4 linked regions of the Homo sapiens genome follow. The protein of the gene in region 1 interacts with the protein of each later gene in a pairwise test. Each region holds a gene or a part of one and is shown on either strand. Other genes may lie near its edges. The genes, in order: CCNDBP1, PIAS2, ZNF394 and RPL7L1.

Evidence for each region.
Region 2: the proteins of CCNDBP1 (region 1) and PIAS2 interact in binary tests that used the Homo sapiens proteins (3 or more experiments, as listed by UniProt).
Region 3: the proteins of CCNDBP1 (region 1) and ZNF394 interact in binary tests that used the Homo sapiens proteins (3 or more experiments, as listed by UniProt).
Region 4: the proteins of CCNDBP1 (region 1) and RPL7L1 interact in binary tests that used the Homo sapiens proteins (3 or more experiments, as listed by UniProt).

The regions. Positions count from the first base shown.
Region 1 is NC_000015.10:43,188,399-43,195,433, forward strand, and holds part of CCNDBP1 (cyclin-D1-binding protein 1), read left to right. Parts: intron 1-795; exon of another isoform or gene 796-800; coding exon 801-882; intron 883-1,656; coding exon 1,657-1,753; intron 1,754-1,926; coding exon 1,927-2,000; intron 2,001-2,567; coding exon 2,568-2,644; intron 2,645-2,996; coding exon 2,997-3,277; intron 3,278-4,344; coding exon 4,345-4,405; intron 4,406-6,016; coding exon 6,017-6,063; intron 6,064-6,328; coding exon 6,329-6,443; 3' UTR 6,444-7,035. UniProt on the Homo sapiens protein: May negatively regulate cell cycle progression. May act at least in part via inhibition of the cyclin-D1/CDK4 complex, thereby preventing phosphorylation of RB1 and blocking E2F-dependent transcription.
Region 2 is NC_000018.10:46,886,480-46,893,514, reverse strand, and holds part of PIAS2 (E3 SUMO-protein ligase PIAS2), read left to right. Parts: exon of another isoform or gene 1-84; intron 85-2,460; coding exon 2,461-2,935; intron 2,936-7,035. UniProt on the Homo sapiens protein: Functions as an E3-type small ubiquitin-like modifier (SUMO) ligase, stabilizing the interaction between UBE2I and the substrate, and as a SUMO-tethering factor.
Region 3 is NC_000007.14:99,492,731-99,497,307, forward strand, and holds the end of ZNF394 (zinc finger protein 394), read right to left. Parts: intron 1,902-4,577; coding exon 799-1,901; 3' UTR 510-798; downstream 1-509. UniProt on the Homo sapiens protein: May be involved in transcriptional regulation.
Region 4 is NC_000006.12:42,882,595-42,889,629, reverse strand, and holds part of RPL7L1 (ribosomal protein uL30-like), read right to left. Parts: intron 6,180-7,035; coding exon 6,016-6,179; intron 5,018-6,015; coding exon 4,880-5,017; intron 3,657-4,879; coding exon 3,547-3,656; intron 3,375-3,546; coding exon 3,166-3,374; 3' UTR 1-3,165.

The sequences.
Region 1 (7,035 bases):
CCCTCTCTTTTCTGTAAAGGGCCAGTTAGTAAATATTTTAGATTTTGTAACCAACTACCCAACTCTGCCCTTATAGAGCAAACACAACTACAGACATTAAAACCAGTGAGTATGGCTGTGTCCCAATACACTTCATTTCCAAAAACAGGCAGTGGGGCCTGACTTGGCCTGAGGACCACAGTTTGCCAGCTCCTGGTCTAAGATATCATGAATATCTTGGGATACAGAGTATCAGGAATAAGTTTTTTCCTGCTGTTTCTTAATGGTTTATTGAGTTGTCAGCCCAATATCTACTATATAGCTAACTCCTCCCTGGTATGTGATGAGTATAGTAGGCCTGCCTTCATACCAGGACTTCAGAAAATGTTTGATGATGCTGTAGAAATATCTGCCCTAGGCCGGGTGCAGTGGCTTACACCTGTAATCTCAGCACTTTGGGAGGCCAAGGGAGGTGGATCACCTGAGGTCAGGAGTTCGAGACCAGTGTGGCCAGTGTGGCAAAACCCCATCTCTACTAAAAATACAAAAAATTAGCTGGGTGTGGTGGCGGGTGCCTGTAATCCCAGCTACTTGGGAGGCTGAGGCAGGAGAACTGCTTGAACCTGGGAGGTGGAGGTTGCAGTGAGCCAAGATTGCGCCATTGCACTCCAGCCTGGGTGACAGAGTGAGACTCTGTCTCAAAAAAAAAAAAAAAAAAAAAAAAAAAGAAAAAGAAAGAAAAGAAAAAGAAAAGAAATATCTGCTCTATTCCACAGCAGAAGGGTTGACCACTTTGATCTAATCTGTTTCCTTTTTCATAGGAAACCCAGAAGTTCTGTGAACAAGTCCATGCTGCCATCAAGGCATTTATTGCAGTGTACTATTTGCTTCCAAAGGATCAGGGTAAGCCACATAAGTGTTGCATTTATCGTGTAGATCTTTGCTAATATTGTGGATTATGTCTTGTGACTTTTACCTTTACCCAACTTGAACATGTAACTTTCTCCCATAAAATACAGTGAAGGATAATTTTGTAATGTAAGTGACTTATATAAACAAGCCATTATTCTAAGATACAGATGCTTTGTTCCTATGACTTCCCATCTCCCCTGCCTTGCCTGACTCATAAGGCTTTTAATTCTCACAGCCTTCTCCCTCTTCAACCCGTTTTAACACCACAGATACTGGCTGGCTCTCAGCCCCATATGCAGGCTCAGGCCATCCTTACTTTCCTCCACCCATGTTATATCTCACCCTATTTCTGAACATCTGCATAGGTTAAATGGCCTCCAGCCCTGCCTGTAGAATCATGCATTGATTATAATCATGCCAAAATTATAACTGAATACATGTCATGGATCTTCAGGGTTACTCAAGTGGCTTAAACTTCAAGTGTTTCATCTACAGTTGTTAAGAGATCACGGTCCTTAATGAATGAATACATGGTGTCACGGAAAGATTTTGTTCCAAATCTCTTTTGAAGAAAACACTAAGGAATGGCAGGAGGGGCAAGAAAATGCCATGGGGATATAAGTAAGACCTGAGTTTTGTGTTAGCATGTAGGTTAAAGCATGTGGGTGTACATTACCTTATAGTTCTGTAATGCTTAGACTCAGGAAAGCAGATGGTGCTTCTGAAAAGAACACCAGGTTGCTTATTCTTTGGGTTTGGCCACAGGGATCACCCTGAGAAAGCTGGTACGGGGCGCCACCCTGGACATCGTGGATGGCATGGCTCAGCTCATGGAAGTACTTTCCGTCACTCCAACTCAGAGGTAGTGATGCCACAGTTTAGGTTACCAGTTATTGGGGTTCCTTGCCTCAGAGGGGAAAAGCTCATTTTAACAGCAAAGTTACTGACAGCTGAGAGTAATGACCAGCAGGAAGAAGCTTTTTAGGAGACAGGAACCTAGGTTATTAATATATCCTTACTGATTTCTTTCCCCAGCCCTGAGAACAATGACCTTATTTCCTACAACAGTGTCTGGGTTGCGTGCCAGCAGATGCCTCAGATACCAAGAGGTGAGTGAAAGTGGGCAGTGGGCCATGTCTGCTGGCCAAAGCAAAGAGACCTCATGTCTAGCTTCCAGCTTTGTAACATGTATTTGAATTTATATAAACAGTCTAGTGAAATATATATATTTTATTAATGAAATTAATAGGTAGGTATTAATACTTTTTGTCATTCTCTAGTTATCATACTTCTAAATTCCACTCCCCCTTGCTGTGGCTGTCTCTTGTTGAACAAGTATGGTTTGTTTTCCTAGTCCTACCCCAAGAGTAGTATTATGGAGCACACTGAAGCAGTTATGAGGTAGAGACAGCTAGGCCAAAACAGTGGTTGTCCAAGAGGACCATGATGATAAACATCATGTGACCATTTTATTTCTTCTTGTGAATAAAATACAAGCTTTTTAAACCCCTATCTAGATACCAGGGGATGTAGTGAGAATTTTTTATTAAACCCGCACCCTTGTCAACCGTCCTTGGCACTCCCATCAATAGGAACAATGTGATTGTTCCTTGCAGTCATAAGAAAATTGTTGGATTTCTCCTCTAATTCTAGTGCTTCTGATTTTTCACTCATAGATAACAAAGCTGCAGCTCTTTTGATGCTGACCAAGAATGTGGATTTTGTGAAGGATGCACATGAAGAAATGGAGCAGGTGAGGGGACCTCCATCATTGGAAGGCAACTCCTTGACTAGTAGATGAGAATTAATTATAAAGAGAGATTTCCTGAGCATTGACCAGATAGGTCCCATTCTCACTACTGTCCTCTGTCTTCCATCTCCCACTGCTTGTTAGTGTTTGATTTAGTACCACTCCTCTGTGTTCCCTTACTGGACAAGGAGAGCGAGAACAGGGTTTATGAAGTGATTCAACTCTGTAGCCCTTAGTGAAGTGGCTGGCTAAGATTTTTGGACAACTAAGACATCGTGGTAAAAGTATAATAATAGGCCTCGCCTTTTTTTTTTTTTTTTTTTTTTGCATTCACATACATCATGGTATGTCTTAGGCTGTGGAAGAATGTGACCCTTACTCTGGCCTCTTGAATGATACTGAGGAGAACAACTCTGACAACCACAATCATGAGGATGATGTGTTGGGGTTTCCCAGCAATCAGGACTTGTATTGGTCAGAGGACGATCAAGAGCTCATAATCCCATGCCTTGCGCTGGTGAGAGCATCCAAAGCCTGCCTGAAGAAAATTCGGATGTTAGTGGCAGAGAATGGGAAGAAGGATCAGGTGGCACAGCTGGATGACATTGTGGATATTTCTGATGAAATCAGCCCTAGGTAAGCGGGATCCCCACTTGAAACATCTGAGCAGCAGCGTTCTGATTTCAATTTGTGTTGTCACCTCAAGGTTTTCACAGTTTTTTTATATTTTGAAATTTTTCAAACCTATAGGAAAGTTTAAAAAGTACCTTCAGTGAACACCCCTATATCCTTCTATTAGATTTGCCTGTTGTTCACATTTTTTCCTATATTGGTTTATTTCTCAAGAGATACTGTTTCATATTTATTCCAGAATGTTTTGAGAGTAAATTGCAGACAGCAATGACATTTCACCCCTAAATACTTCAGTATGTATCTCCTGAAGTACTCTTATTCCTACTCTTATTATCACATCCAAGAAATTTGACATTGAATATAATAGTATTATCTAATATTCAGATTTCCCCAGTTGTCTGTATCTAAAATGTCATATAAATTCAGGGTTCTGTCAAGGTCCCACATTGCATTTAATTGTCATCTCTTTAGTCTCTTGAAATCTAGAACAGTTCCTATCCTTTGTAGTCTTTTTTAATCAACATTTTAAAAAGAAACCAGGACAGTTGTCTTGTAAAATATCCAACAACCTGGATTCACGTGATTGTTAGTTCTCATTTTTGCAAGAATATCATATAATTAAGTGTTTTGTACATCTCATTTTATCATATTAGGGAGGCACATGATGTTGGTTTGCCTCATTATTGGTGGTACTAAATTTGATCACTTAAAGTGGTGCTCACTTTAGTAAAGGTATATTTTACTCTAATTTTAGCTTCCACTGATGAAGGCTGCCTGCCTATATTAGTTATTAAACTGATGGTTTCACATCCTCACATTTTTGACTGAATTGATCATGCACCCTACTATGAACCAAGGGAATTTCCCCCCCAGCTTCCTAGTGAAATGGGGTATGGTTGTTTCAATAAAGACTGGTTGAACTCATTCTGTATTGGTTGCCCAGTTGCCCAATTTTAAAAACTGACAGGCATTTCTGGGACAGTTTCTCACTGTTGACATCCATAGTTGTGTACTAGAAACAACCTGGCTGCGTTTTTTTGTTAATGATTACTTTTGTTTTCTGCTCTTAGTGTGGATGATTTGGCTCTGAGCATATATCCACCTATGTGTCACCTGACCGTGCGAATCAATGTAAGTACTGGCTTTGAGGGAATAGCTACAGAACAAATGGGCAGAATTTCACTAATCACTAGTATTTCCTGTAAGCTATAGGGTACATATTTATTAGTCACATTTGGATGGAAGTACAACAGTAATGTCACAGTTCTTGCATGCGTTTGGGGTTGATAAATATTCACTGAAGTTGAATTATAATAGCCATGAGCTTTGGTAGTTCTCTCTTCCATAATCACCTGGGTAATCATTCAGAAAAGCCCAAAGGCCTTAGAAAATGATGCTTTAAGGCTGGGCGCGGTAGCTCACACCTGTAATCCCAGCACTCCAGGAGGCGGAGGTCAGGAGTTGAGACCAGCCTGGCCAACATGGCGAAACCTTGTCTCTACTAAGAATACAAAAATTAGCCGGGCATCATGCACCTATAATCCCAGCTACTTGGAAGGCTTAAGCAGGAGAATCGCTTGAAGCCGGGAAGTGGAGGTTGCAGTGAGCCGACATCGCGCCACTGCACTCCAGCCTGAGCAACAGAGCAAGACTCTGTCTCAAAAAAAAAAAAAAAAAAAAAAAAAAAAAAAAAGCTTCTTTGAAAAGAAAGTCTTAATTACACGGTAATTTAGGAACTTCTCAACTTGAAGTCACAAGTTTCTAATTTCTAGACTAGGCAGCAATTAGATTGAACTTCAGCTGTTCATGAAGTAGCTGGCTGAGGTCACATGTTTCTGATTTCTAGACAAGGCAGAAATAAGTGTTCCAGAAACATACTCTGTTCTAATACAAACACATTGTGTGATTTAACTATGGAGAGTCAACTTTCTTATAAAAATCTGATTTTATTGTATTCTTTGAGGTTCTGTGCCCTTTACTAGAGAGAGTTCTGTTCTCTCTAATGTTATTGGAAAGAGCAGTAAAACTGCCAAATGGCTTATATTTTACAATTGAATGTATCAATTCTAGTAATATTTGATAAATTGGATAATGGAAATTAGATTCATCAGATGTGTCTTCATGATGTATAAACACCTTGAAGTAGAATAGGATCCTTTTGGGCATTAACATTTTTTTGGCATTAACTTTTAAAAAATTGACTTCCTAAGAAATAAACATTTTTAGCAATATGCCTAGTCAGCTATCCCAAACATAGTATCTGCTCTAGCAATTTTAAAATGTGTACTGCATATGCATCTTATATGTATTGATATTTTATATTAAACGTCTCCATCTTATCCTTATATTGGTGTTCTTAAAATTCTTAATGCGCTTTTTTTTTTTTTTTTTTTTTTTTTTTTTTAAAGGAACCTTAGTCATTTCTGCTTTATATTTTGAGCTATCAGCATTTGGGACCAATTCAGGTTACATTTTCCTTTTTCTGTCCTTTTTTAAATTGAAAATATTTTAGATCTAAAAAATCTTATTAAAATGTTATAGCAATAGTATTAATAAGATCTTGCTAAATAGAAAAGAACCCGTAATCCTGCCACCCTAACCTAATCAGCATTTTAAATTTTGCATACTTCCTTCAGGTCCTTTTTCTAAATAATTTTTTTATTACTTGGGTCTTTAAAAATATTTGAACTCACCTTTTTATGGTAGGGCTCAGGGTGAATAACTTCTGTGTTTCTTTTCTAGTCTGCGAAACTTGTATCTGTTTTAAAGAAGGCACTTGAAATTACAAAGTAAGTATGAAGACTTCTCAGATAGCTTTTTGTGAGTAAAACGGAACTGCTGTCCAGACGTTCTCAACTCCCTAGCTCCCATTTCAAGGAGTGGGAAAGGGTGGGTGTGGGATTTTCTTTCAGCTTCAGTTGTGGGGCAGCTGAGATTCTGCAAAGAAGCTTCCCTTTAAAAAAATTTTAGTTTTCCCTGTGCTCCCTCCTGAGGATAGGTTTTCCCTTGACATCCTAATAAGTTTAACTTACTTCTTTCCTATTCTATTCACAGAGCAAGTCATGTGACCCCTCAGCCAGAAGATAGTTGGATCCCTTTACTTATTAATGCCATTGATCATTGCATGAATAGAATCAAGGAGCTCACTCAGAGTGAACTTGAATTATGACTTTTCAGGCTCATTTGTACTCTCTTCCCCTCTCATCGTCATGGTCAGGCTCTGATACCTGCTTTTAAAATGGAGCTAGAATGCTTGCTGGATTGAAAGGGAGTGCCTATCTATATTTAGCAAGAGACACTATTACCAAAGATTGTTGGTTAGGCCAGATTGACACCTATTTATAAACCATATGCGTATATTTTTCTGTGCTATATATGAAAAATAATTGCATGATTTCTCATTCCTGAGTCATTTCTCAGAGATTCCTAGGAAAGCTGCCTTATTCTCTTTTTGCAGTAAAGTATGTTGTTTTCATTGTAAAGATGTTGATGGTCTCAATAAAATGCTAACTTGCCAGTGATTAAATGAGTGCCCTTCCAAAGTTTCTTTTTACCAGAAATACAGTGGATTGAGACTAGAACATTGCTTTCATTTGGGTTTGTAGGTTTAAAAATCTGATTCTAATCAGAAGTATATTTAGAACAAAACACTTTATTTATAAAAGATGACTCCAAAATTCATCTTAGTATTTCACCATGTTATATATTATTATCAGCAAGTCCTTCTGAATATTATCACAGATTACTCCATGTCTCTAAAA
Region 2 (7,035 bases), on another chromosome or scaffold:
ATTAACATCCTTTGCCAAATAATGTTATCACTGGAAATATGAGATATGAGACCTCCTAGAAATTCCTCTGAGAGTCAAGCTTAGGTAGGATGACTTTGTGCTTTGTTTTGTCATTTCTGTAAAATAGCTTCCCTTAAAATGAAGAATATCTGACAATAAGTATAAGGAGTGAAGCAAAGTAGTGAATTCTGAGTTAGAAAAAATCAGTTATGTTTTATCTGTGTGATTGCCTTTTTTAGTATTAGTGTTCCACAATCAATTGAAGTATTTACTAAGATTGAGGGAAAGATGCATCGTATTACTTGCTTGGGTAAACCCTTCCCAAGAAGCTGTTGTCTTCTGTTTAATGCATGAGATGTTGAGTAAGCTGTGACTGGTTTGTTATGAGATAGGCCAAAAGTTTTCTTGTTTTCCTTCTTTGTTGTCTGCACTGTAGAGGTAACACACATTGTGGTATGTGTTCTATTAGAGTATGATTTAGAGCTACCACAGTGTGGTAGCTAGTGGCCACATGTGGCTCTTAAGCACTTGAAATGTGGTTAGTCCAAATTTAGATGTATTGTAAGTGTAAAATATACACCAGATATTGAAGACTTAGTATAAAAAAAATCCCACTGACACTTTAAAAAATGATTATTTTTAAATTACAAAAATTGATTGCATGTTGAGATGAAAAGATAGTTTTGATATATTGGGTTAAATAACTATGTTAATGTAAATTATCATTATTATTATTATTATTTTTGAGACAGTCTTAATATTGCCTAGGCTGGAATATGGTGGTGTGATCACAGTTCACTGTAGCCTCAAATTCCTGGGCTCAAGTGATCCTCTCGCCTCAGTCTCCTGAGTGGCTTGGACCACAGGCACACACACCACCATGGCTGGCTAATTTTTAAATTTTTGTGGAGACGGGGTGTTAGTATGTTGTCCAGTGTGGTCTCGAACTCCTGGGCTCAAGTGATCCTCTTGTGTTGGCCTCCAAAAGCACTGGGATTATAGGTGTGAGCCACTGTTCCTGGCCTAAATTAGTTTTTTTAATGTGACTACTAGGAGGTTTAATGTGTGTCTTCTATTAATTTGTGTTGGACAGCACTGAATTAGAGTATAAAATGGCTTGCCAGGATTACAATTTAATATTCTCTCACTTGTACATTATGAAATATAGAGACATATATAGTACACAAAGTACAGTTATGACAGTGTATATGGATTACTTTGGCATATTTAAATCTGTTTGCATTTTAGTAAACTAGCAAGTATTTATACCAACAAGTATTTAAAAACCATATAGGGTTTTAAACAGTTGCTTCTGGGCCGTCCCTGAGACTTAAAAAGTACAGAGCAACTGCCCCACATTTCCACTATACTGATGAGACAAGCAGGTTGAAAAGGAATCCCAAGTGACTGTGGAGTGTGTAGCACGGGCTGGGTTGGGGGAGTGATGAGGATGGGATGGGACACCAAACCACAGGTAGTTCTCCTGGGTAGGTTTCTGACAGGGCTTTGGTCAGCTCCAGGTGTTCTTCCTCTTTCTTGCTAGATGATGCATGTGTGGTATCTGACCCAAGTGTGATTTGCCTCTGAGTTCAGAATTGACTGGAAATCACTAAGTAGGTGGATTCCTGAGGCTGCAAGGGGTTAAAAATATTCATTAAGTTTTGCTGAAAAAATAGAAGGTGTGATGTGAAGCTGCAACTGCTTATAACCTTTGTTTTACGCCCAAGCACAAGCCAGTAGAGTAGTGTGGAGGAAATGTTGCCCTTTAAGATTGATGACTGCTCATTTCCTTGCTCTTCAAAGGTCTTTTTCTCATTTGGATACCCAGCTGGGAATTTCAGTTGTTTTAGAAGTTTGACTGCTAAATAAGATGTATGTGATTTTTTAGCTTTAATATTTTAAAATATCTTTATTATGTTGTTTGTTTGTTAATGTTTGAATTGGGGTAAAAAATTCATTGCATTTTGGATCACAGTTCTGACTTGATTTTTATGGATTTACTACTCAGCATCAAAAGTTACACATCTAACATTGTGAAAATCTGATTTTTTGTTTGGTTAATTGGCGATAATTCTGTAACAAACATTACATTGTATATTGGGAGGGGTTGGTTTTGAAAAGGAGTATATTCATTGGTGATAGATTTTATAGTCATAAAGCAAATAACTGTTTGCATTAGAGCATAATCAGATAATGAAGTGGTTAGTAGAAACCAATAGACTATAGATTACCAAAATTAAGATCTTGTACAACAAAATATAATTAACACCGTAACTTGAATGTAATTTTTACGGGATTGTCTTATGAATGGTAATGATTCTAAGTGGTATGTGAAATGCTGTTACTAGCACATGCCAATTGATAGAATGCTGGAAAAATCACATTTTACATTATATTTTAGATAGGATTTTTGTATGCTTGAGGGTGACTTGGCTTATGTTTTTTTTTCTTTCCTTTTAGAATATGGTTTCTAGTTTTAGGGTTTCTGAACTACAAGTATTACTAGGCTTTGCTGGACGGAATAAAAGTGGACGCAAGCATGACCTCCTGATGAGGGCGCTGCATTTATTGAAGAGCGGCTGCAGCCCTGCGGTTCAGATTAAAATCCGAGAATTGTATAGACGCCGATATCCACGAACTCTTGAAGGACTTTCTGATTTATCCACAATCAAATCATCGGTTTTCAGTTTGGATGGTGGCTCATCACCTGTAGAACCTGACTTGGCCGTGGCTGGAATCCACTCGTTGCCTTCCACTTCAGTTACACCTCACTCACCATCCTCTCCTGTTGGTTCTGTGCTGCTTCAAGATACTAAGCCCACATTTGAGATGCAGCAGCCATCTCCCCCAATTCCTCCTGTCCATCCTGATGTGCAGTTAAAAAATCTGCCCTTTTATGATGTCCTTGATGTTCTCATCAAGCCCACGAGTTTAGGTAAGTGTTTGAGAATTCAGTTTCTTCTGAACAAGATAGTAAATGAAATGAGAGACCTTCAACTATTGATTAATGATGTGCTGTTAATATAGTGAAATTGAGGCATCAATGCCGAATGTTTGAATATACGGATAAAAATTCGGCAACCATGACTGAAATCTAATAGAAGCTTTATTTCATATCATTTGATCTTTCTTCTTCTCCAATTCTTTTATTGTAAAATACACATAATATAAAATGTATCATCTTGATCATTTTAAAGTGTACAGTTGAGTGGTGTTAAGTATGTTGGTAATGTTGTGCAGCCATCACTGCCATCCATCTCCAGAACTCTTTTCATCTTCTGAAGCTGAAACTCTGTACCCATTAAACAATAGCCTTCCTCTCCTCCTCTCCCACTAGCCCCTGGCAGTTACCATTCTACTTCCACTGTCTATGATTTTGACTATTCCAAGTACCTCATGTCGTTGGAATCATACAGTATTTGTCTTGTGACTGGCTTATTTCACTAAATGTAATGTCCTCAAGGTTCTAGCATGCTGTAGTTTATGTTAGAATTTCTTTCCTTTTAAAGGCTAAATAATACAATAGTATACATTTTTAAAGAAAAATAGTAATCTTTTGCTCACTCCACTACTCATCCCTCAATCTCACTTTCAAGAGGCAACAACCTTAATTATTTTAGCTGTTTCTTCTGGTTTTACTTCTATATTTCTGTGTTATAGGATACCACATTTTGCTTATCCATTGGACACTTGGGTTGCTCCCACATTTTAGCTATTGCGAATAATTCTGTGGACACGGGTATACACGTATCTCTTTGAGACCCTGCTTTTCAATTCTTCTGGCTGTATACCCACAAGTGGAATTGCTGGATCACATAGTCATTCTGTTTTTAGTATTTTGAGGCATCACCATACTGTTTTCCGTGGCAGCTGCATTTTACATTCCCTTCAACAGTGCACAAGGGTTCCAGTTTCTCCACATCCTTAACAACACTTTTATTTTCCTTTTTTTTTTATAGTGGCCATTATAATGGGTGTCAGGTGGTATCTTATTGTAGCTTTGATTTGCATGTCTGTAATGATGGTGATATTGTGCATTTTCATGTGCTTTTTGGCCATTTATGTATCTTTCAAGAAATGTATAGCCAAGTCTCTTGCCCATTTTTGAATTGGTTTGTTTTATTGTTGTTGAGTTTTAGGAGTTCTCTGTATATTCTGGATATAATCCCTTATCAGATATATGAATGTGCAAATATTTTCTCCCACTCTGTGGTTTGCCTTTTTTACTCTGTTGATAGTGTCTTTTGATGTACAACTTAACATTTTTTCATGAAATTCCAATTTGTTTATTTTTTGTTGTTGTTGCCTATGCCTTTGGTGTCATATCCAAGAAATCATTGCTAAACTTCATGCTGTGAAGGTTTTGCCCTGTGTTTTCCTTTAAGAATTTTATAGTTTTAGGTCTTACATTTAAGCCTGATCTCTTTTGAGTTAATTTTCGTATATGGTATTAGGTGAGTGTCCAGCTTTGTTCTTTTGTTTGTGGATATCCAGTTTTTCCCCACCATTTGTTGAAAAGCCTGTCCTTTCCCTCACTGAATGATCTTAGCACCCTTGTCAAAAAGTATTTGACCATGTATGTGAGGTTTTATTTCCAGGTTCTCTGTTCCAAGGTCTCCAACCCTCAGGCCGTGGACTAGCACCAGTCCACAGCCTGTTAGAAACCAGGTCGCACAGCGGGAGGTGAGCAGCAGGAGGTGAGCAGCAGGAATTCGAGCATTACAGCCTGAGCTCCACCTCCTGTCAGATCAGCAGTGGCATTAGATTCTCATAGGTGCAGGAACCCTACTGTGAACTGTGCATGTAAGGGATCTAGATTGCATGCTCCTTACGAGAATCTAATGCCTGATGATCTGAGGTGGAACAGTTTCATCCAGAAACCATTCCCCTGGCCTGTGGGAAAATTGTCTGCCATGAAACTGGTCCTGGCCAAAAAGGTTGTGACTGTTGATTTATTCCATTGGTCTAGATGTCTGTCTTTATGCCAGTATCACAGTTTTGATTACCGTAGCTATGTAATATGTCTTGGAATCAGGAAGAGTGAATTCTCCAGCTTTAATTATTTTGTAAGATTGTTTTGGCTATTTGGGGCCCTTGAGATTCCACGTGAATTTTAGAATGAGTTTTTCTATTTCTGATAAAAAAAAAAAATTGGGATTTTGAGAGGAATTGTAGTGAATCTGTAAATTTGTTTGGGTAGTATTGATATCTTAGCAATATTAAGTCTTTCTTTTCCCACATAGGCTGATGGGGAAAAAAAAAATTAAGTCTTCCAGTACATGAACATGAGCTGTGTTTCTATTTATTTATGTGTTCTTTAATATCTTTCAGCAATGTTTTATAGTTGTTATTGTACAGGTTTTCATTTTCGTGGTTAATTTTGAAATATTTTTTCTTTTTGATACTATTGTAAAAACTACATAATTTCCTTTTCATCATATTTATTATTAGTTTATAAAAATGCAATTGATTTTTGCGTGTTGACTTTGTATTCTGCTACTTTACTGAATTCATTTATTCTAACAGGTTTTTTGTGTGAAATCTTTAAGGTTTACTGTATATAAGAGCCTACCATCTGTGAACAGGAATAATTTTACTTCTTTCTTTTCTGTTTGTATGCCTTTTATTTCTTTTTCTTGCTTAGTTGCTCTGGCTAGAACTTACTCAAGCATTCTTATGGTGTAGAAATCAGATTGCTTCCGTGTGAATGGGAATAGATACAAATCTTATTTATTGATCCTGATTTTGTATTTTGATACTTTTCATATTTTTATAAAGGGACTTACTTTCCATTTAATGTAGCTTTTAAACTGATTTTCTAAGAAATAAACCTTTTATATTTAATTTTATTTCTAAAGTGGCACAGGGAGTTTGACATGCAGTTTTTTAGCTTTTATTTAATGCCCATCAATTGCTTACAATGTGACTAACAAATTTTTGCATTGCTGTGTTATAATTCTTACTGCCTAATGAAGTTATTTACAAATATATTTGAATTTCTTTATGAAATAAATTGGGAAGTAACATTTCATAGTTGATGTGGAAGATTGCTTTCTTTTCTTTCTTGGGAAAACCCTTTTTATTTTCAGTCATGTGAAAACACTTAAACATATCAGTGTGCTTTTTTACCTGTCTTACAGGATTGTACTGCAGCCTGTCTTGGTTAAATCGGAAGGTTTTGAGGGGTAGAGCTAGTTAGTGGGGTTAGTATGGCCTGACTAGTGGCAGGCAATGTGGCTATTTTTTTTTTTTTTTCAATTTTTTGCTTTTTGCTTTATTTATGTTTTAGCAAAACTGGTGATCCAAGCAAGTGGAGTATTGCATTTTATCTCTTTATTACGTTCACTTTGAAATAAGGATTGAGTGTTTGTTCATGTTTTATTATTTGTTTGTACAAAGTCCTATGAGTAGAATTATTGGATCAAGTAAAAAGAACGTTTTAGACTCTTGATAACATATTGCCAAATTATTTTAGTGCCAGTTTAAATTCCACAAGCAAAGTGAGAGAATGCTTGTCATATCTCATTACTTTTTGCCTTTACTGGGTGCTATTGAAAACAGATCTCTGTGATTTTTAGATGAAAACTTGTATCTTGCTTAAATTTTTATTTTTAAAATTAGTAACAGGAGCAAGTATTTTATTTTATTCGATTTTATTTGTTTTTTTTTGGAGGGGGGGGACAGAGTCTTGTTCTGTCGCCCAGGATGGAGGGCGGTGGCGCTGTCTCGGCTCACTGCGGCCTCCACTTCCCCGGGTTCAAGCAGTTCTCCTCTCTCAGCCTCCCGAGTAGCTGAGGCTACAGGCATGTGCCACCACACCGGGCTAATTTTGTATTTTTAGTAGAGATGGGGTTTCGTTACGTTGGCCAGGCTGGTCTTGAACTTCTGACCTGAGGTGATCCACCCGCCTTGGCCTCCCAAAGTGCTGGGATTACAGGTGTGATCCACTGCACCTGGCCAACAAGAGCAAGTATTTTAAATGCTTATTACCCGGTTGTCTGTCTTTTATGATTTTACTTTCATCTTTAGCCTTGT
Region 3 (4,577 bases), on another chromosome or scaffold:
GGATTCCTTGAGCCCAGGAGGTTGAGACCAGCCTGGGCAACATAGCAAGACCCTATCTCTTAAAAAAAAAAAAAAGCTGGGTGTGGTGGTGTGTGCCTGTGGTCCCAGCTACTCAGGAGGTTAAGGCAAGAGGATCACTTGAGCCCAGGAGGTTGAGGCCACAGTGAACCACGATCACACCACTGGGCTCCCGCTGGAGGGCTACGACGAGACCCAGTCTCAAAAATAATACATAAAGGTAGAGCGCAGATAACAAGGACAGAACCCCGTTACATGTCAGCCTGGCTCTTATCATCAGAAGTCTCTTACCTGGCATCAGCTCACATTTCAGAAGGCCCCCTACTTCCTCATTCCTCACTCACTGAAACTATCAGTCTGTAATGAGGCTCAGGACAGATTGAACCTATCTTGTAGGAGATACTCAAGGAAGATCCATAATTGACTGATATACTCCAAATGGCAAGGAATGTGGTTCTGGACAAGAAAAGAAACAGGCCAAGTCACATAGAAACATATCAAAATGACAGCACTTTATTTCTTTTTTGAGATGGAGTCTCGCTCTGTTGCCCAGGCTGGAGTGCAGTGGCATGATCTCAGCTCACTGCAACTTCCGCCTCCTGGGTTCAAGTGATTCTCCTACCTCAGCCTCCCGAATAGCTGGGCTTACAGGCATGCACCACCATGCCCGGCTCATTTTTGTATTTTTAGTAGAGACAGGATTTTACCATGTTGGCCAGGCTGGTTTCAAACTCCTGATCTCAAATGATCTGCCTGCCTTGGCCTCCCAAAGTGCTGGGATTATAGGCGTGAGCCACCACGCCCAGCCGACAGCACTTTATTTTGATGAATTCTTTGGTGTCGGATAAGGTGTGTACTTTGTCTAAATCTTTCCCCACATTCAAGACATTTGTAAGGCTTTTCCCCAGTGTGAATTCTCTGGTGTTTAATGAGGGTTGCACTCTGATTGAAGCGTTTCCCACAGACGGAACATCCATAGGGCTTCTCCCCAGTGTGGATTCTGTGGTGTTTAAAGAGGTCAGAGCGCTGTTTGAAGCTCTTCTCGCATTCTTCACACTTATAGGGTCTTTCCCCTTTATGTAGTCTCTGATGTCTAAAAAGGTTGGAAATATGACAGGTTTCCCCGCATTCCTCACATTTAAAATGTTTGTCTCTACTGTGGGTACTTTGATGACGATTTAGGTGTGAATTCTGCCTGAAGCGCTCCCCACATTTCAGACAGGTGTACGGCTTCTCGCCTGTGTGTGTCCTCTGGTGCTTGGTCAGGGCAGCACTCTGGCTGAAGCTTTTCCCACATTCTTGGCAGCCATAGGGTTTCTCACCTGTGTGGATTCTCTGGTGTCTAAAGAGGTCAGAGCGTTGTTTGAAACTCTTCCCACAGTTACCACATTTATAAGGTCTTTCTTCATGGAGCTGCCTCTGGGTCTCAAAAAGGCTGGAATGATGGAAACTGTCTCCACTGTCAGACTTGTGAGGTTTCAGCACGTGCCACGTCACCATGTGGAAACTTTGCTTGCACTTGTTCCCGTGTTCCTCACTGTCAGTGGGCCTCTCTGCTTTCGGGATGTGCTGACATAGAACAAGGTTGGAACACCTGGCACTGTTCTGCAATTCATTATTTTTAGAGTCTTCCCCTTCTATGGAACCATTCTTATTGACATCTGAGATGCTGTTGAGTCCTTCTGCTTCAGGAGAATTTTCAAGTTTCAGGGGCAAGGGGTCTCCGGACTGCTTTTCCACCCTGTCCTCATGGGTACTGCCACACTTAGAAAACAGGGGGCGCTTCCCCTGGAACGCTTCTTGTAGTTGCCCCTGTGGCTCCGCTTCTTCTAAAATTTGTTGCATTGGAATCAACTCTTTGTTCTCCACTCTGCTTTCCAAACCTGAAACGTGAAAATACAAATTCCTGCCAGTGCATCCCTGTGCAACACAGAAATAAGCAAGTGCTGGCAGAATGTTAAACCCTCAAACCCCTTTTACTTTTTAATTAATTAATTTATTTTTTGAGACGGTGTCTTGCTTTGTCACCAGGCTGGAGTGCAGTGGTCCGATCTCAGTTCACTGCAACCTCTGCCTCCCGAGTTCAACTGATTATCCTACCTCAGCCTCCCAAGTAGCTGGCATTACAAGTGCACGCCACCACACCCAGCTAATTTTTGTATTTTTATTAGAGATGGGGTTTCACCATGTTGGCCAGGATGGTCTCTATCTCTTGACCTCATGATCCGCTCGCCTCAGCCTCCCTATTTATTTATTTTGAGACAGAGTATTACTCTGTTGCTATTTATTTATTTTGAGATGGAGTCTCACTCTGTTGCCCAGGCTGGAGTGCAGTGGCATGATCTCGGCTCACTGCAACCTCTGCCACCTGGGTTCAAGTGATTCTCCTGCCTCAGCCTCCCAAGTAGCAGGGATTACAGGTGCTAATTTTGCTAGTTTTAGTAGAGACAGTGTTTCACCATATTGGCCAGGCTGGTCTTGAACTCCTGACCTCGTGATCCGCCTGCCTCGGCCTCCCAGACTTCTGGGATTACAGGCGTGAGCCACAGCACCCAGCCTATATTTTATTTTATCGTATCTTATTTTATTTTTGAGATGGAGTCTTGCTCTGTTGCCTAGGCTGGAGTGCAGTGGCATGATCTCAGCTCACTGCAACCTCTGCCTCCCAGGTTCAAGTGATTCTCCTGCCTCAGCCTCCCAAGTAGCTGGGATTACAGGCACCCACCACCACACCCGGCTAATTTTTTTGTATTTTTAGTGGGGACGAGGTTTCACCATCTTGGCCAGGATGGTCTCGAACTCCTCTGACCTTGTTATCCACCCCCCTCGGCCTTGCAAAGTGTTGCGATTACAGGCGTGAGCCACCACACCCAGCTATTTTATTTTTTTGAGATGGAGTTTCGCTCTTGTTGCCAAGGCTGGAGTGCAGTGGAGTGATCTCAGCTCACTGCAACCTCTGCCCCCCAGGTTCAAGCAATTCCCCTGCCTCAGCCTTGAGAGTAGCTGGGATTACAGGCAACGTGCCACCACACCCGGCTAATTTTTGTATTTTTAGTAGAGATGGGGTTTCACCATGTTGGTCAGGCTGGTCTCAAACTCCTGACCTCAGGTGATCCACCTGCCTTGGCCTCCCAAAGTGTTGGGATTACTGGCATGAGCCACTGCACCCAGCCTATTTATTTTATCTTTTTGAGACAGAGTCTCACTCTGTCACCCAGGTTGGAGTGCAATGGCGTGATCTCGGCTCACTGCAACCTCCACCTCCCAGGTTCAAGTGATTCTCCTGCCTCAGCCTTCTGAGTAGCTGTAATTACAGGTGCCCATTAACTGGCCTGGCTAATTTTTGTATTTTTAGTAGGTATTTTAGTAGGTATTATAGTAGGTATTTTAGTAGGTATTATAGTAGGTATTTTAGTAGGTATTATAGTAGGTATTTTAGTAGGTGTTTTAGTAGACGGGGTTTTACCATGTTGGCCAGGCTGGTCTCGAACTCCTGACCTCAAGTGATTCACCTGCCTCGGCCTCCCAAAGTGCTAGGGTTATAGGTGTGAGCTACCTCGGTCTCCCAAAGTGCTGGGATTACAGGTATGAGCCACCACACCCGGCACAAGGGAGCAATTTGAGCAAAGCCCTGAAACTTTGCTTCCTACAGAGTAGAGTAGAATATTCCAGGCAGAGCGGTCACATAGCACAAAGACCAGGAGGCAGCGGGGCCTGGCATATTTTGGAGCAGCAAGGCAGTGTGGCCAGAGCAGGCAAAGGGCAGCAGAAGGGATGGGTGGGTGAGCAGGGTGCCAGGGCCCCTGCACATCAGGCATCAGAGGTCCGGCTAATTTTTGGTATTTCTAGTAGAGACGGTGTTTCACTATGTTGGCCAAGCTGGTCTTGAACTCCTGACCTCATGATCTGCCCACCTCGGCCTCCCAAAGTGCTGAGATTTACAGGCCTGAGCTATCACGCCCGGCCAAAATGTATTACTATTTTTTTTATTAATTTTTTTTTTTAAAGAGATGGGGTCTCGCTATGTTGCCCAGGCTGGTCTTGAGCTCCTGACCTCAAACAATCCTCCCATCTGGGCCTCCCAAAGTGCTAGGATTACAGGTGTGAGCCACCGTACCCAGCCAACAGCAAATGTTGACAAGAATATGGAGAAAGAAAAATTATTAGTATTGCTGGTGGCATATACATTAGTTATGGGCTCTTTGGAGAGCAAGATGAACATACAGTTGTTCCCTCTTCTCTGTGGGGACACGTTCCAAGTCCCCCAGTGATGCCTGAAATTGTGTATAGTACCAAAGCCTATATATATATGTGTATATATATGTATATACATACATACGTGTGTGTGTGTGTGTGTGTGTGTGTGTGTGTGTGTATATATATATATATATATGTATATATATATATAAAATGTTTTTTCTTTTTTTTTTGAGACGGAGTCTTGCTCTGTCACCCAGGCTGGAGTGCTGGAGTGCAGTGGCACGATCTCGGCTCACTGCAACCTCCGCCTCCCAGGTTCAGGTTCACGCCATTCTCCCGCCTCAGCCTCCCGAGTAGCT
Region 4 (7,035 bases), on another chromosome or scaffold:
GCCTTGGGCTTCCATAGTCACAACTGCTTTTTTGCATAACTTTGTAATACATCATTTTAAAGTAATCTGATTTCACAATGTTTTACAGTATAGGAGTAACATCTATAGCATCTCTTCTTGGCAGGTTACCTCTGGAGAGAACCAATCTAATTACCTCATACGCTGGCACTTTTTTTTTTTTTTTTTTTGAGACAGAGTTTTGCTTTTGTTGCCCAAGGTGGAGTGCAATGGTGTGATCTCGGCTCACTGCAACCTCTGCCTCCCTGGGTTCAAGCAATTCTCTTGCCTCAGCCTCCCAAGTAGCTGGGATTACAGGCATGCACCACCACATCCGGCTAATTTTGTATTTTCAGTAGGGACAGAATTTCTCCATGTTGGTCAGGCTGGTCTCGAACTCCTGACCTCAAGTGATCTGCCTGCCTCAGCCTCCTGAAGTGTTGAGATTACAGGTGTGAGCCACCGTGCCCAGCCTAAGCTGGCATGTTTTAAGGCAGTTACATCTCTAACTTGATTTACCAGCTATGCTTGAGGGTCCAAGGAGCCAAAATTGCAGCCAAACTGATCTTAAAGGACCAGGGAATAGAATGGTCAAGCATGTTTCCAAGTTTAACCTAGGCCTGGCACATCCTTGCCAATTGCTCAGATGGCAAGTGAGGGGCAACTAAGTGAAGAGAATAGCAGGAAGACCCACTTGGGGTGGACACTGATGAAAAACACAAGCAGTATCAGACTCACTGTTTTCAGGATTAAAATCCCCAGATGCCCTGTTATTGGTCTATGTCACTACCAGTAGGACAAAAGGCAATGCTTCTGAAGACTAGAATATGCAAGGAAAAAATTAAGGTGCCTGCCTGCCTGGGGCCTAACGAGCCAAACAGTGCTAATTTCATCCATGCCAAACAAAATTGTTCATTCCTTGCTGATTTGGGTTTTAAGGAACCATGCTGATCATCAGAGAAACCAGGCAATTCTATTCTGAAGCCCAGGGGAAGAAATGGTGGGGATTTCTGAGTTACAGATGGTGCAGGGGTTAACACTATCTGCCACTATGAAGGGAAAAATCTATCTTGGTAAACTTTGGTCTTCCATAGGACATGGAACCAGAGTAGCAAGATCAGGGCCTGCGTGACCGATCCTGATTGAGCAGGACTTCCTCACATAAGGTACACAAGAGCTGGGCGCAGTTGCTCATGCCTGTAATCCCAGCACTTTGGGAGGCCCAGGCTTGTGGATCACTTGAGGTCAGGAGTTTGAGACTAGCCTGGCCTACATGGTGAAACTCTGTCTCCATCTCTACTAAAAATACAAGAATTAGCTGGGTGTGGTGGTACATGCATGTAATCCCAGCTGATCAAGGGGCTGAGGCAGAATCACTTGAACCCAGGAGGTGGAGGCTGCAATGAGCTGAGATCATGCCACTGCGCTCCAGCCTGGGCAACAGGGTGAGACTGTCTCAAAGAGAAAAACAAAACCCATAAGATGCACAGGTATCTGAGAAGGGTCTAAACACCCTAGAACTGCAAGCAAAATTTTGAGTGTATACATGTTTTCCTGGCGAAGGGGTCCTCATTCTCAAATCCTGAGCTTTTAGGAAAAAGTACTAAGCCAGTTTCAGGTTACGATACAAAAGCCACCAGATACACTTAGAGCCAGTCAAGTTTGAGAATTCTCAAAGCCATCACTGAAAAGTTGGAACACATACTCACAGCAGAGACAAGTGAACATTTATTTTTATGCCTTTCTTCCTATGTGTATTTCAAGTCTTTTTCAAAACAAGGCCCCAGGACTCTCCAGATTCAATTATGTCCTTGGGCTTGGTCGACTGCTGCAGGAGTCTCAGGGAGCCTTCTACAAATGCTAGAGTGACTCATTTACCAACATTAAACCCTAGGATACATGCAACAAAGCAGGACTCCTTCCTCCATGGAATGTGCCGATTTCAGATGACACAGCACCCAATGCAGAAAACACTGGAATTTTTCCTTGGAACTCGACTGTGATGAGAGGTGCTTGACATGAACATATGCTACTGTCTTTTCTTTTTTTTTGAGACAGAGTTTCGCTTGTTGCCCAGGCTGGAGTGCAATGGCGTGATCTCAGCTCACTGCAACTTCCACCTCCCAGGTTCAAGCGATTCTCCTGCCTCAGCCTCCTGAGTAGCTGGGATTACAGGCACGTGCCACCATGCCCGGCTAATTTTTGTATTTTTAGTAGAGATGGCATTTCTCCATGTTGGTCAGGCTGGTCTCGAACTCCCAACCTCAGGTGATCTGCCCACCTCAGCCTCCCTAAGTGTTGGGATTACAGGCATGAGCCACCACGACCGGCCAGCTACTGTCTTTTCTTTGACCCTTTCCAGTTTCTGAAGATAAAGCAGGAAATAATCTTCTCTGAAGATACTTGATAAAAATTTCCAAAACAAAACACATGCTTCCACTTCACTGATAAAAAATTTACCGCAGTTTGGCACCTAAGAGTATGACAACAGCAATAAAAAGTAATTTCAAAGAGTTAAGATTTCTTCAGCAAAATAGATGATTCACATCTTCAAGTCCTTTTTGAAATCAGTTATTAATATTATTCTTTCCTCATTTCCATCTGAATGACTGCAGCAATAGTTTTTTTTTTTTTTTTTCCGAGATGGAGTCTCGCTCTGTCGCCCAGCTGGAGTGCACTGGTGCAATCTTGGCTCACTGCAATCTCTGCCTCCTGGGTTCAAGCGATTTTCCTGCCTTAGCCTCTCGAGTAGCTGGGACTACAGGCACGCGCCACCACACCCAGCTCATTTTTGTATTTTTAGTAGAGACAGGGTTTCACCATGTTGGCCAGGATGGTCTCAATCTCCTGACCTCATGGTCTGCCCGCCTTGGCCTCCCAAAGTGCTGGGATTACAGGCGTGAGCCACCGCGCCCGGCCAGCAATACAGTTTTTAGTTACTCGACATCTTTAAGCCTATAACTCTTAGGCTATGCATAGCCCCATGTCCTAATCAGGCATTCACTGATCCCAGCAGGTCTCCATCTATTTGTACCAGCCTCCTCTATTCCTCCCAATCTCAAGGTTACTCTTAAATACTAGTAAATGCAAAAAGAACTTGTAAAGTGGCAAGGCATGGCCTATCAAAAGTCAGCCCAAGGGCAGTTTTCAGCCCTGCCTCACCTGGGTCTAGTTCAGCTGACGGATGAGCTGATTGATGCGTTCACCCCGATAGCCAGGTGTGCCCATCTCCTTGAGGAAGCCCACTCTATTTTTGGTAGCATGACGGGCCACTGAGAGGTGGAAAGGGCACAAGAACCATGAGATCTCCTGGAAATGCTTCCCTGGGAAGGCAATTTCATGAATGAGGTCTTCCAAGCAAATGACGCCAAACTTCCCTAAGAAACACAAAAGCACAGATTCCTTTATTTAACATGTATCCAGCATATACTAAGCTGGCCACTCTGGCAGACTCTTGGGGCCCCAAGAAGAATACAACCTGAATCTCACATCAAAGCTTCAAAGACCCTGGCTTTCTGCCCCAGCTGATCCCTAAGCTGTAGCACTCACCCAGGTGCTCCTCAATCACTGTATTGTCTGTCAGAGGGATGGTCTTATTCTTGACCTTGGCTTGTCCACGTTTCAAAATGAGTTCTCGGACAGACTTCAGATTTGGAAATCTATGTAGGAAAATAAAGCACGGTTTTCACCAGCACCTGGCACACTACATACCAGTCCTGCAGCCTGGCTGAGAGGTTGGAGAGGTTCTCCCACACACTCACTTCTCCCAACGAGCAAGTGTTCTGCAATCACATTCCAGCTGAAATGCTTGGAAATACTCCTGATAAAGAACTGAAGTGACCCCACTTACATAATTAGAAATTTAAATTTATGGATGTAAATGTTCACCAGGGAAAATATTGCCAACAAAAACAAAACAGAAACCATGTCCTAGCTTACCTTAGGGGCTACGACTCTGGCCTTAGGTGACCCTCTACTCAAGATGGTGCAAGAGTTGGAAATAAAATCCAAGTTTTTGTTGGGTTTCAATGTTTGAGGAATACTACTCTTTTTTTTTTTTTGAGACGGAGTCTTGCTCAGTCTCCCAGGCTGGAGTGCAGTGGCACGATCTCGACTCACTGCAAGCTCCGCCTCCCAGGTTCATGCCATTCTCCTGCCTCAGCCTCCCAAGTAGCTGGGACTACAGGTGCCAGGCTAATTTTTTTTGTATTTTTAGTAGAGACGGGGTTTCACCATGTTAGCCAGGATGGTCTCGATCTCCCGACCTCGTGATCCACCGTGTCTGGCCTTTTTTTTTTTTTTTGAGACAGAGTGGATTGCAGTGGCACAATCTCAGCTCACTGCAACCTCTGCCTCATGGATTCAAGCGATTCTCCTGCCTCAGCCTCCCAAGTAGCTGGGAATACAGGCACACATCACCATGCCTGGCTAATTTTTTTTGTATTTTAGTAGAGACAGGGGTTTCACCATGTTGGCCAGGATGGTCTCAATCTCCTGACCCTGTGATCCACTCCTGACCGTGTGATCCACCCGCCTCGGCCTCCCAAAGTGTTGGGATTACAGGCATGAGCCAGTGTGTCCGGCCAGGAATACTACTCTTACACATGCACTGCCTTTAGCTCTGCTTTAAGACTTTCAAGAACCAAGCTTTCCTTGACCCAGCCTTAGCCTATGACTGAACCAGCCCTACTATGGTATTGTTCAGACCCCTCCCTACCCTGTGTCCCATGGTTATTACAGCTACCCACTGATTTCAGGTTGACTGTGGTCACAGCAAAATGTCCCTTCTACAGCAACATGAGCCCTGGAAAGCAATACCCGGTGCACCCTGACACACTCAAATAGAAATCTAATGTGAATTCACATGGAAAACCTTACTTACCCCCAGGTCACATAAGGTTCCACTATACGCAGCATTTTTAGATTCTGGGGGGTGACTTTTACAAAGACACCACTAAAAATTTTCTTTAGGCGAAGTCTTGCAATGGTTCTCTGCACCAGTAAACTCACGCCGTCAATCCTGAAATGAACAGCAACAGAAGTCAGACAGACTCCCTCCAGTTTATGTCAGTCCAGCAAGCACAACATGCGAGGTCACTACACTGGGTAATCTGGAATAAGACACAGAGACTATGCCTTAAAGAGCTCAGTTTAGTGGGAGGCGGTTATGAAAACAGATCCTTTTCATAATGTGGAGCAGTGCCTGGAATGCTATGGAAATTGAACTTGTGTGTGTTTCAGGGGTAGGCGGAGTGGTGGTATGTAGGTCTACACATGTCCAGCTAAGGAAGCTGGATGTGCTTCTATGGGCAGTAAAAGCTACTGAAGATTTTAAGCAGAAGAGACCAGACCAGATTTCTTTCTGACAATCACCAAGGGCAGTGTATGGGACAGATCACAGTATGACACTAGAGGCAAGGAAATCCAGGAGGAAGGTTAATACAATAGTTCAGGAAAAATATGAGCAGTGGTAGAGGGCTACAAAGGACAGAGCTCATAAACATGCAAAATCCACAGGTTTCTGGTTTGGGTGATTGGGTAGGGGAAACAGCAAGAAGTAGAGTTGTACATGGGGTGGGCAGGGGGTTGGGAAAGTTCCACTAAATGAGGAAAAATGTCTCCCCTTCACTGAATATGCTTCATCCACTCAGCCTTGTTTCAGTTCCTAGAATGATGCCTTGCTTTCCCTACCTCAGGACTTCAGCACGTATGCCTGAAAAATCTCCCAACACTGGTGAACGCCTTTCACATCTTTCAGGTCTCAGGTTGAAGTTCCTGCTTTAGAGAGGGTGTCCTCAACCCCTCTCCCTAGTGAGCACTTTACCCTCATAGCACTTATTTTCAAGCCTATCTGTCTAAGGTCTTCCAAATATTGCAGACTAAATTGTGCTCAACCCTGACATCCTAGCACAATTTGCCTGAGTGGCTTGGGGCATATTATCTCCCTAGAAAGGGGTCTAAAGCTTAAGCAACACTTTGCCCCAGCCTCATGCAATTAGAAAGACACCAGTTCCTTACCTTTCGATGCGTACAACAAAGGCCAAGGAATGTTTATCTGGCAATTCCAAGGCATGAGGTTTCACTTCTAGTCGTCTGAGACGCACCTTGTCACGTTTCTGCCGCCAGGAATCATGTAGGAATGATTCCAGTCGCTTAAACCTGAGCCCTTTTCCTTTCTTCTGCTACAGAGAAGACAGACCATCATCATCATCTTGTGCCTCCATACATTTTTACTTTTAGAACAGTAATTCATAAGTGACAACTGATATAGCTTATTTCCCCGTGTTCCACAATGCGAAGCAAAGCAACATTCTCTATTTTCATATAAAGGAAAAATGAGAAACCAAAGTAAAGGTGGAGTTGAGGAAACTTGGGAATTATTGGGAAAAATAACGAACAAAAAATTAGTTTACATATTAATCAGTGTTTACTAACAAGTTTCCTTAAACTCCACGCCAGCATTTGCCTGCAGGTGTTAAATATTTGCTAAATGAAGACATAAACCATATACACTTGGTGCTCTGCATCTGTGATTCAACCAACCCCAGATGGAAAATACTTTGGAGGAGCACATACAGTAGCTCACCCTGTAGTCCCAGCTACTTAGGAGGCTGAGGCGGGAGGTTCTCTTGAACCCAGGAATTCAAGGCTGCAATGAGCTATGATCCTGCCACTGCACTCTAGCCTGGGTAACACAAGACCTCACTCCTTGTTCTTTTTTTTTTCTGAGATGGGGTCTCGCTCTGTCGCCCAGGCTGGAGTGCAGTGATATGATCTCGGCTCACTGCAACCTCTGCCACCTGAGTTCAAGCCATTTTCCTGCCTCAGCCTCCCAAGTAGCTGGGATTACAGGCATGCGCCACCACACCCGGCTAATTTTTGTATTTTTAGTAGAGACAGGGTCACCTTGTTGGCCAGCTTGGTCTCAAACTCCTGACTTCAGGAGATCCACCTGCCTCAGCCTCCCAAAGTGCTGGGATAACAGGCATGAGCTACCACACCTGGCCAAAGACCCCACTTATTTTTTTTTTTTTTTTT